2 separate regions of the Homo sapiens genome follow, and region 1 is linked to region 2. Evidence: fine-mapped expression QTL. A gene starts in region 2. The other region holds a variant in brackets. All regions are shown on one strand. Distances are from middle to middle. Region 1 holds the start of TMPRSS4 (transmembrane serine protease 4). Region 2 holds the start of SCN4B (sodium voltage-gated channel beta subunit 4).

Region 1 (5,368 bases), 76 kb before region 2:
AGCACTTTGGGAAACCAGAGCGAGTGGATCGCTTGAGCTCAGGGGTTTGAGACCAGCCTTGTCAACATGGTGAAACCCTGTATCTACAAAAAATACAAAAATAAGCCAGGCATAGTGGCTCACACCTGTAATCCCAGCTACTTGGGGGACTGAGGCGGGGGAATCCCTTGAGCTCAGGAGGTGGAGGTTACAGTGAGCTGAGGCTGCACCACTGCACTCCAGCCTGGGCAACAGAGGGGGACCCTGTCTCAGAAAAAAAAAAAAAAAAAGAATGTGGGTTCTGGTCCAGCTGGTTTTCCCTGGCACCTGGGAGAGGTGGGCCTCTGTTGTCTCCAGGCCACTGTGCCTCCCTCTGTAAACCTTCACCCCCACCTGCAGGCATCACAGCCACCCTGCCCAGTCCTGCTTATGTGCCTTCTTCCCGGACCTCTCCACAAACTCCCAGACCCAAATGGGAGCAGAAGCCAGGAGGGCTGAGTCATCATCCCTCCAACCAGCCATGCCCAGCAGCCTTCATGCCCAGACAGCTGCCTCTTTCCTGGTTCATCACCTGAGCACCAGGTAAAGCAATGCAAACCTGTGGGCCAGATGTTTAGCCTGGCACATAGAGGAACCAAGACAACTGAAAACGTGGCTCCCAGTGGCCCACTGGCTTCTCACTGCCCTGCTGCTGGGGAGGTGCCTGCCTGGACCATCACGGCCCTGACCCTGAGGTCACCTGAGATCACAGGCTCTTGCCTCTGCCCAAGACTTCCAACTCTCAAGGCCACCAGCCATCAGTAAGGAAGGGCTGGGGCTGTGCTGGCTCCAGAGCCCTGCAGGCCAGCTTCAGATCTCTGCTGCTCAGAGACAAGTCCAAGGCCACACTGCATTCATCAGCTGAGATTTGGCCAATAATCCATTACACAGATCCGGTATTCCTCCTGCTCAGACATCACTGGGGTCCTCCATGGGCCATATTATCCCAAACCATGAACCTGGGGCTTTCAAACACTTGTGTTCCATTCAGCCTGTTCACAAGCCTGGCAGTGTGAACCAGTAAGAGAACCAGGTTCCAGCCCCAACTCTGCCCGAAACTACTTCATGTCCATAGGCTATAGTTTCCTCAGCTGACAAATGGGAACAAAATATTGGGGTTGTTGTTGGAGAATTAAAGGGCTGATACACAGAAGCACGTTATCAACAGAAGGACAAATACACACGTCTAACCCAGGCTGGTCTCCTGGGAGGGTCAGGTCTGAGAAATGGAAGGAGATCTGGATTCATATGGAACCAGACACTAATTCATTATGTGACTTTGGGTCATTGACTTTGCCTCTCTGGAATTTAGTTTTGTCGCCCACAGAATGGGGGAACAATGTGGACAATTATCCAAGTCTCTCCCAGCAAAATATCTGTGGCTGTAAGGTTTCACCTTGCACATCCCCTGGCCAGGGGGCAGCTCCAGCTATCAGGATGTGGCAGAACGTGAATCAGAAATGATCCTGTGGGGCTGGGTGCGGTGGCTCACGCCATAATCACAGCACTTTGGGAGGCTGAGGCAGGTGGATCAGTTGAAGCCAGGTGTTTGAGACCAGCCTGGCCAACATGGCAAAACCCCATCTCTACTAAAAATACAAATTAGCCAGGCATGGTGGCGCACAACACCTGTAATCCCAGCAGCTACTTGGGAGGCTGAGGCAGGAGAATCACTTGAACCTGGGAGGTGGAGGTTGCAGTGAGCCAAGATCGCGCCACTGCACTCCAGCCTGGGCAACAGAGACTCTGTCTCAAAATAAAATAAAATACAAAAACACAAAACTTAGCTGGGTGTGGTGGCAGGTGGCTGTAGTCCCAGCTACTCGAGAGGCTGGAGCACGAGAATTGCTTGAACCTAGGAGGCGGAGGTTGCAGTGAGCTGAGATTGCGCCCCTGCACTCCAGCCTGGGGGACAGAGAGAGACCCTGTCTTAAAAAAAGAAAAGAAAAAAAGAAAGAAAGAAAGAAGGAAATGACTCCGTGGACGAGGAGACGTGGGCTCTAGCCAGAGCACCAATAGTGATTTTCAGAATATTGAACGGCTGCTGAGGCAGGGGCAGGAAGCACTAGTACATTGGCTCTGTGCAGGACAGCTTCACTTCTGGGATCCAGGGAAAGGGGGTACATCTTACCTCCCTAAGAGAAGAAACTCCCTCCTTCTCTGTGGACTTTCCAATCCTATTGCTCCACACCTGGCAATGATCTCTTTGTACTGAGCTGCAAACCCTGTCGCCCAACCCCCAGACCACTCCAACTTCCCACAACCCCAAACCAAAGCACCCACACAGTGAGAAGTCATGCACCTAGAAGGTAGGGGGA[G/A]GGGGGGCGGAAACTTCTGGCATCACCCTCAGCCAACACCCAGTTGGGTGGAAGTCATTCAGGCGGGAAGGCTTTTGTTACGCCTTAGGTGTGTCACCTGTTCTGAGGCCGAAGGTCCCATGAATGACTTCAGGTGTTGTTCCAGCCCCTAAGATAGGTGTCAGGTTACAAGACACATAATCATTCCAGTTTGGCAACTTCACTTGTAGGGCTGTTTTAATCAAGCTGCCCAAAGTCCCCCAATCACTCCTGGAATACACAGAGAGAGGCAGCAGCTTGCTCAGCGGACAAGGATGCTGGGCGTGAGGGACCAAGGCCTGCCCTGCACTCGGGCCTCCTCCAGCCAGTGCTGACCAGGGACTTCTGACCTGCTGGCCAGCCAGGACCTGTGTGGGGAGGCCCTCCTGCTGCCTTGGGGTGACAATCTCAGCTCCAGGCTACAGGGAGACCGGGAGGATCACAGAGCCAGCATGGTGAGTGTGGGGCCCTCTGCTCCCAAGACACAGGAAGGGTGGGTCTCCCCATGTAAGGCCCTTCAAGCAGCCTGAGCATCCATCAGCTGAGAATTCTGTGACACCTTCTAGGTTAAAAAAAGAGGCCACACCCAAATCCCCTCACACCCCAGCCCGGTACACGTCTCATACCCACCTGCCTTCCTCTCTTCCTCCATTGCCATGGTCCTTGGACCAGCTCACCTAAGAAGCTGAGCACAGAGCCAGGGCTGTCCTTCCCGACTATTCTTTCCTGAATCCTGCATGTTCTTTTGCCCAATGTCTCCAGGTCTGTTGGTTAGAGGTTGGCACTATTTTTCCAAGGCAGGGGGCTGTTCTGATGCCACGGTTGCCCTCTGCCACTCCCTGGGGAAACTGATTCCTTTTCTTTTTAAAGAAAAGTGTAGACTGGGTGCAGTGGCTCACGCCTGTAGTCCCAGCACTTTGCGAGGCTGAGGCAGACAGATCTCTCGAGGTCAGGAGTTTGAGACCAGCCTGGCCAGTATGGTGAAACCCCATCCGTACTAAAAATACAAAAAATTAGCCAGGCGTGGTGGCAGGTGCCTGTAATCCCAGCTACTTGGGAGGCTGAGGCAGGAGAATCGCTTGAACTTGGGAGGCGGAGGTTGTGGTGAGCCAAGATTGTGCCATTGCACTCCAACCTGGGCAACAAGAGTGAAACTCCGTCTCAAAAAAAAAAAAAAAAAAAAAAAAAAAAAAAGAAAGAAGGAAAAGAAAACAGTGCAGAGATGCCTCCAAACAATCTAGGGTGTTTGTGGTCATCTTTTACTTGGTCTCTTTTCATGCCCTCACCCTCTCTCCTCCTCCTCTGAATACCTGGAGCGTCTTCGCTGTCTTGGGGCAAAGAGAATCAACCCTATCTTTCAAGGAGGACAGCTGAGGGCCAGGGAGGGGAAGAGATAATAACTGGGTCTGAGGAGGAACCCAGGGGTCTTCCTTCTCCAGTCCTTGGCCAAGAGGCAGCAATTGCCCAGCCACCAAAGTGAAAGGGAAGGGAAGAGAGGAAAGGAGAAGCCACTGTCCAAGGGGGAAGGGTGTGACCTGCAGGGGCCCCTCGAGTGATTGTCTCCTATTCCCAACCTGAGCACTTCCCACGACACTCTTCTGAAAATTCTGGCAAGAACAATTCTTAGTGCGGTTGTAGCTGATGATCAGAAAGGGGAAGGGGCTTCCCTTTGAGCCAGGATCAAAGCACAAGCTTCCTGCTTTCCCATCCAAGGAGGCGCCCCAAAGTTTGGCCTGTGTGCAGAGACGCTGTATCCCCTGGGGCTCCCAGGAGAGGAGAGCAGCTGTGGAGTCTACCTAGCTGTGAGCTGCTTCTGGGTGGCAGGCACTGAGGAGACCTGGGGTGTCTCTTGGGGGAGCAACAGAGAAGGGAATCATTTCTAGGGCAGGTCACTAACTGCAGAATCAGAAGGCTGAGGCCAGCTCCCTGATTAGCTGTGCTGTCTTGAGGCATTCATCTTCCCGAGACTCACCTTCTCCCCTGCCCACGGAAACGATATGACCCACAACAGCCCCACGCACATGCACCGGGTTCGCAGAGATTACACAGCTAATACATGTGAGTAGGTTCTGGAAACCATGAAGCCCCGCACAGATGTAAGGACTTAGGACTAAAGAGGAGTCTGTGCTAGGAAATGACAGCTGGGTAGTACACCCAACACAGACCCTTTGCCACCAGGGAAGGAGCTGGGCATTGCTGGAGGAGCGGGGGAGGGCAGGTGGGAACACTGGTGGAGGGGTCAGGTCAGGCCTGGGGCCCCAAAGGCAAGGCAGCAGCATGGCCAATCTCCACGGTGTGGTCAAGGAAGTTTCTAGCCCCGGAGCTAGCCATTATACTGCCTGTGCTGAATAACCCTGTCATTAAGCCTGTGCTTAATAACCCTTGACAGCCATAGCTCCCAGCCCTGAGGGGAGGATGGGATCTCCACACCCAGGCTCAGCCCTCCCTTCCCTTCCCTTCCATTCCCTACCTCCTTCCATCCCCACAGGCCCCTTTCTGTGACAGTCAGGGTCCTTTGAGCTGCTGCGTCTTAATGACAGCTCTCCCAAGAACCCATTAAGCTGGGTATTCCTAGGGAGAGCTGGAGCAGGGACTCAGGCCCAGGCAGAGGTCAGAGCCCAAGCCCTGTCCCCGAAGGAAATGTGTCCCATGCTAACTACTCCATAGCTGAGGCCTGGAGGGAAGTCAGGGACCCTGGGACTGGTTATCCTGGCCTTGACTCATTACTGTTCCGGAGACCTAAACGCACCCTGAGCCACCAGACGTGGGTGTTAACACCTGAGGTCAACCCCCTGACGCTTCCGGCTGCTCTGGAGGAAGCTGGTCCTCCCTCCCACCTCCTGTTTTCCGTGCCAGCCTGGTACAGAGTCAAGGGGCTTGGCTGGGCTTGGCTGGGCTCAGAAACGTGGCAGTCAGGAGCCAGCCTGCGGGCAGCGGGGTGCTGGGAGCACTGCAGGGTCCACCCTGACTGGGGCACAGAATCCAGAAGCCCACTCGGCCCTGGCAGTGCCATC
Region 2 (5,368 bases):
GATAATTAAACACAGATCACAGCAATTAAGTAAATGGGGGAACAAGGAAGGAGTGGGCAGGACAGAGATATTACCAGTTACATGCTTAGGAAGAGATTGGAAAGCACATAAACCTCAATGGCAATAATATAGCCTTGGAAACTGCTTCTCAGTTTAAGAAAAGGGTATTTTGTTAGGTTATCAAAAATCACTTTGGTCTCAGTCTGTGAGACTGGGTTTGATACGGGGAGAGGGGAAGAGGACTCCTGGGAGTTCACTGCTCTGTACCCAGTCTCCGAAGCTGTGAAAAGAGCCGCTCTAGGCCCCTCAAGTCTTTATCCTTCCACACTCATGCCCCAGAGCCTCACTTATTCTTCAGCCCTAAGCACAATCACTATTTACCTTCCCCCTCACCAGACTTGAGTTAAGTGGGAAGCAGCGTGGTGTGACAGAGCCCAAGAAACTTAGATTCTGTCCCACTTGGCCATCAATTGGCCATGAGCCCCTAGACAAGTCACCATCCCTCTCTGGACCATGACTTCCTCATCCCTAGGAGAGTTCTGTGCTCTGCTTCCCAGAGTTGCTGCCAACTCTGATGTTCCCAGGGAACACCTCCAGTTGGCTGTCCAGTCGTCTCTGTATCTCCCCCACTGGACTGAGAAGCAAGGATGTCATCTATGTCCCAAGCTCAGACCAATGCCCCTGTGAGGGCTCAGTCAGTATTACCTGGTCAAGGGCCAAAGGGACTTTGGTTGGAGTCCCTCTGCAGACCAGAGGGGCAGGGGACAGAGCAGATGAGGCCAGTCCTGGGGCCTGCAGGTCTCCCACCTACAAGTCACTCTGCTTTCTCCTGGGCTCCCAAAGGGTAGCTCAGAAATTCATCTAAACCTATATCAATAGGCCTTAGCCCCTACCTGGTCTATACAGCTGAACAGTCCTTGGAGAAGGTGGGGCTTCCACCTGGAGCAATGTACCAAGACTGTGCCTACAATCCCCCTTACACACGTGCACACACACACACACACACACACACACACATCATTTTCAGGGCCCTCTTGGTTGCCCACAGAGGCCTGGTTCTATGAGTATTCTAACAAACAAGGGACTGGCATCCCACCACCCAGGAAGGTAAGCCAGAGGTGTGAAGTGGGGTAGTTTAATGACTGGCTGAGTTTGAATTCCTCAGTGATCCTTTACCCCTGCCATTGCCACCATGGGGACCTGGGCTGATCTGAGATGGGATGAGGGGAAGTAGCATGGAATGGCGCTGTGCCCACCCTGTGAAAAGGAGCCTCAGGCGTCACTAAGGCCCACTTCATTAAGGTCACTGTGAAACCAGCATGACATCTGTGCCAAGGTACAGGAGAAAACAAGGGTGTCTTCCATCTAGCGGTACAGAGGTAAATAAACATCCCAAGTACAAGAAATACTCTCTCCCCTCTTCACCACCAGGCACCAACCTGCTAGATCTGCACACAGTTTACATTCGCAGAAACAGTAGCCACTTCCCTTATAGGGTTCTGTCTCCCTGTTTTCAGCAGAAATACCTACACCGTGTGTCTTACCCAATGCAGGGAGCTGCCAAAAGCCAAATCTGACCAATATAAACAGGAAGAGATGCCGTTGCCAGAGATGGAGTCGGCTTACATTAAAGTCTGGCTATGATTTATGAGGAGATTACATCCTGGATGAATAAATATCATTCCCTAATCTCTTGGAGTTTGACACTCAAAACTCTCATGTGCATATTAATAGATATTAATAATGCTTCTTCCTCCGTGTCCTCTGGACATGTCTTCTCTGTCTCCATATTCACTTCAAAAATGAAGAGCCAGGAGCAGGTCAAACAGGTCTTCCCTACGGAATCTCTTTGTAGGAAGAGAGACAAGGCCGTTCCTAAAGGGCCTTGAATGATCCCGCAAGCCCCTCCAGCCCCTTCCAGCTTTCAGGTGCTGCTGTAGGGAAGGCAGTGGCTCCTGAGGGAGGTACAGGGCAGAGGAGCAAAGCAGGAAAAGGGCCCAGGAAGAAGGGGACTCCCCCACCCCCAACTGGTGCATGCCTGGTGCCTGGGAAACAAGCAAACGGCTCTGGGCCGGGATGGAAACCACCATTCCAACAGTCACACGTGCAACCCACCTGGTATCCCCTGCACTCAAGGCACGGACCCCCCTCCTCCAGCATCCTGAACCTCTGAACTCTGGAGACCCGCGCTGCAGCCCCAAGATCCAGCTCCAAATACCTGGAGCCGAAGGTGCCAAGGACAGCAAAAAAACTAATCCTGAGACTGGCGGGCTGATGGGGTAGAGAGGGACGCACACGGTCCCCAGGGAGCACAGCCTATGAACCAGGCAGGAACCAGGCAGGAAGCCGGCGGCCACCATCCTCATTCCGTGCCGCACTCCAAAGCCCACCCCATCCAAGGCATCTTCCTTCTCGAGTGTCCCCTTCTTTGGGGGTGGGGGGAGGCAAGAGAAGAGACCAAGCTGGGGCTGCCTTACCCAAAAGCCCAGTGCCCAGCCATCTCGCCGGGGCTTTGCCTCCGTCCCCAGCCCCGGGCATAGTCCTGTTCTCTCCGGAGCGCGCGGGGGTCGCGGGGATGGGATACTGGGCACAGCCGCGCTCTCCGCCCGAGGTCGGCGTTCGGCCACAAAGCTACCCCGGAGCTCTGCGCCGCCGGTCGGGGCTCGGGAAAGTTAGCGGGCAGAGAGCGAGAGGAGGGGGAGGGAGGGAGCGGAGGGGGAGGCGCGCTCGCCCGCTGCTGGGAGCCGGCTGCTGGAGCAACGGCGGGAGGGAAGGAGTAGGAGGAGCCGGAGCAGGAGCGGGAGGAAGACGGAGCGAGCGCAGCGGCGAGCGAGGCTGCGCCTCTGCTCTGGAAGCGCTCCAGCCGCAGGAGGGGCGGTGGCCGCCGCGTAGGCCGGGGAGCCCCCGCCCGCTGCGCACCCTGCCTGCCGCACCCCGCCTCGCGGTCCCGGAGCCCCGGGACCACGCCGTGCCCCCAACTCCCTCTCCAGTGGGGCTGGGCTGCTGCGGCTGGCACTGCAGGGCCGGCCTGCAGCCACCCGCATCATCCCATGCGCTGAGCTGCCAATTAGGAGCATAGTTCGGGGGGAGTAGAGGTGGAGCTTTTCGGTTGCTGGAAGACTGTTTTGCTTTGCTTGGGGGAACACGGGAAGGTTAGCGGCTCCCTCTCCCAGGACCGCCAAGGGACCGCTTTAAAGTCCGCAGCGGACGCTGCCGCAACGGGTGGGCGTGTGCGGGCTTGCCCACTGCAGCTTGCGCCTCCTCGGTGGCGTGCGACATGGCGCGCGTGCAGCCTCGGGACCCGCTCCCGCCACCTTCTGCCCCATCGCTCAGCAACTCCGGCGGTTGTTTTAGGAAGCCCGGAACAGAGCTTTCCCATTGCAAACTGCCCCGGCCCTCCCTTCCCCCACCCCCACGCCACCCCGCCCCACATTTCTCCATGGACCCCTTGGAAATCACCACGCTCCAGGTTAGGGAGCAGGTTGGTCCGCGCCTGGTCTGTGTCCTGCGCCCCATTTCACCCTCCCGCTGCACCCCTGCTTCTCATTTTTCCTACCTAGGCCGTCCCCCTCAGATGCTGCCTTTTCGCCCTCCTCCAACTCTCCTGTTTTCTTCGGAACGGCAGACTCCCTCGGCCTCCCTTTTGGGGTAGGGGTGGAGGAGTCCAGGGTGACAACCAGGTCAGAGGGCTGAGGCGAGGCTGTGAACGAGTAAGCCTTTTCCCAGACAGGCCCAAGTGAAAGAGTTTCACCTGAGCGGTGCTACTTGGGCTGGTGGTTCTGTAAATGAGTCGATCTCCTCCTCAGCACCTTTCCAACCATCCAAGACCCTCCCTGCATCACAGGCCCTCTTTACTGTCTAGGACTGGTCCGGACTGGGAAGCCCGCTCCCACTTCATGGTCTGACTTCTGCTGCAGGCACACCAACGCACCGCCTTCTTAACGAGGGGTCTCTGGGTGGACTTCGGCGTGATCACGGACCCCTTGAGGTTGCAGGCAAAGTGCTGAATGTCTGTTTGCTTTTTCAGGAGAGAGGGTCGCTGCCTTCCCTATAGTGGCACAGAGGCTCTGGCAGCGCCACCATTTATGACTGTATGGCTTTGAGCAAGTTACATGGTCTTCTGGGGGAGCCTCTGCTCCTCACCTATAAAATGGTGAATGCAATGATATTTGCCTCCTAGGCTTATTAAGAGCGATGTTACCCCTGGACCTGGGCAACAGAAGCCTCAGCCCTGATTTCTGGTTTTAAAGGCCCTCATTCTGGCCCTCCTCTGGCCATGCCCCTCACTGGAGAATGAGTCCATGGGACCAAGGGGGCAGGGCAGGTGGGGGCATGCACCTCCTCCCCTTCTAGACTGTACTCCAGGTATCAGGAACTCTGGAATTCCCTATTCCCCAGATCTGTCCTTTCAAGGGCTGGCCATATCAGGTGTGCACTCAAGGGCTAGAGCAGTGGGCAAGGGACAGCTGTATGCAGGTGATGGGGAGTGCATGTAACTTGACACACACCCTAGGCATGCACAAGAGCCCCTCTCACTACAGGACCAGAGAAGAGTGTGTACCAGAGAATGGCCTGAAAATTTCATTTTGGACATGGTTTTCCAGGTTATCATGAAGGAAAAGTAATTAAAGGCAGAGGATAAAACATCAATCTTAACACTTTGTTATCCTGATTAATATTTAGACATATGTATAATTTCCATTTGTACCTTTGCTCCAGGACTTGCAACATCAAAAGTGGACCTAGCTGTAAAGAGGGAATGAGATATTATTGCATGTAAAAGTGCTCAGCAGACAGCTAGGCACAGGATAAACACTCAGTACATTTGAACTTAAAGAGGTCTGTGGGCCCTGAGGCTAAGCCTCCCCATCTGTCTCCAGGTCCGCAGGCTTACCCTGTCCTTCCCCAGGAGGTCCTTGCACTAGATCCGCAGGGCCAGGCATACAAACTGACCACTTTATTTTTACAGCAGGGGTCATGTTTCTCAGAACCCTAGACTGAGGTGAGAGAGGAGGTGAGCCAAAGGGAAGGAAAGTGACCCCTGCCCAGAGCAGGGGGAGGAGAGGGACAGAGCTGCAGGGATATCTTTAGATCCTGGTGACAGGAAAAGATGGCCAACGTCCTCAGTGTCCTCTCCCCACCTTCCCTGCTACCTCACTGCTACCTCACCAGTTCATAGAGTTTGAAGGGTCCATAGGAAACCCTCATGCCTTAGGGATGAAGAAAGAGGCTCAGAGAGGTAGAATGTGTAACCCGAGGTCAGCTACACAGTTACTGTTAAAGTCAGCGTTAGAACCTCCCCCATTACTTGATTTCCCCAATCCACACCCCCAGCTTTCCTCTAAAGAACTCCAGGAGGGCTCCGCAG

What was found. PIP is the estimated chance that this variant, and not a neighbour inherited with it, causes the effect. A credible set is the group of variants that fine-mapping cannot tell apart.
Region 1: its variant is the best candidate, but not a certain one, in a credible set for the expression of SCN4B in whole blood (TOPMed, PIP 0.71).

The regions. Positions count from the first base shown.
Region 1 is chr11:118,074,497-118,079,864 of GRCh38, forward strand. The region is part of intron 1 of SMIM35 (small integral membrane protein 35); the gene reads right to left. It overlaps TMPRSS4 (transmembrane serine protease 4), which reads left to right and starts at 2,582. Exons shown (of 13, transcript NM_019894.4): 1 at 2,582-2,809. The coding sequence starts at 2,807. RefSeq lists an enhancer at 2,437-3,032. The variant G/A (reference allele first, on the strand shown) is at 2,337.
Region 2 is chr11:118,150,136-118,155,503 of GRCh38, forward strand. It overlaps SCN4B (sodium voltage-gated channel beta subunit 4), which reads right to left and starts at 2,688. Exons shown (of 5, transcript NM_174934.4): 1 at 2,478-2,688. The coding sequence starts at 2,538. RefSeq lists an enhancer at 3,306-3,806.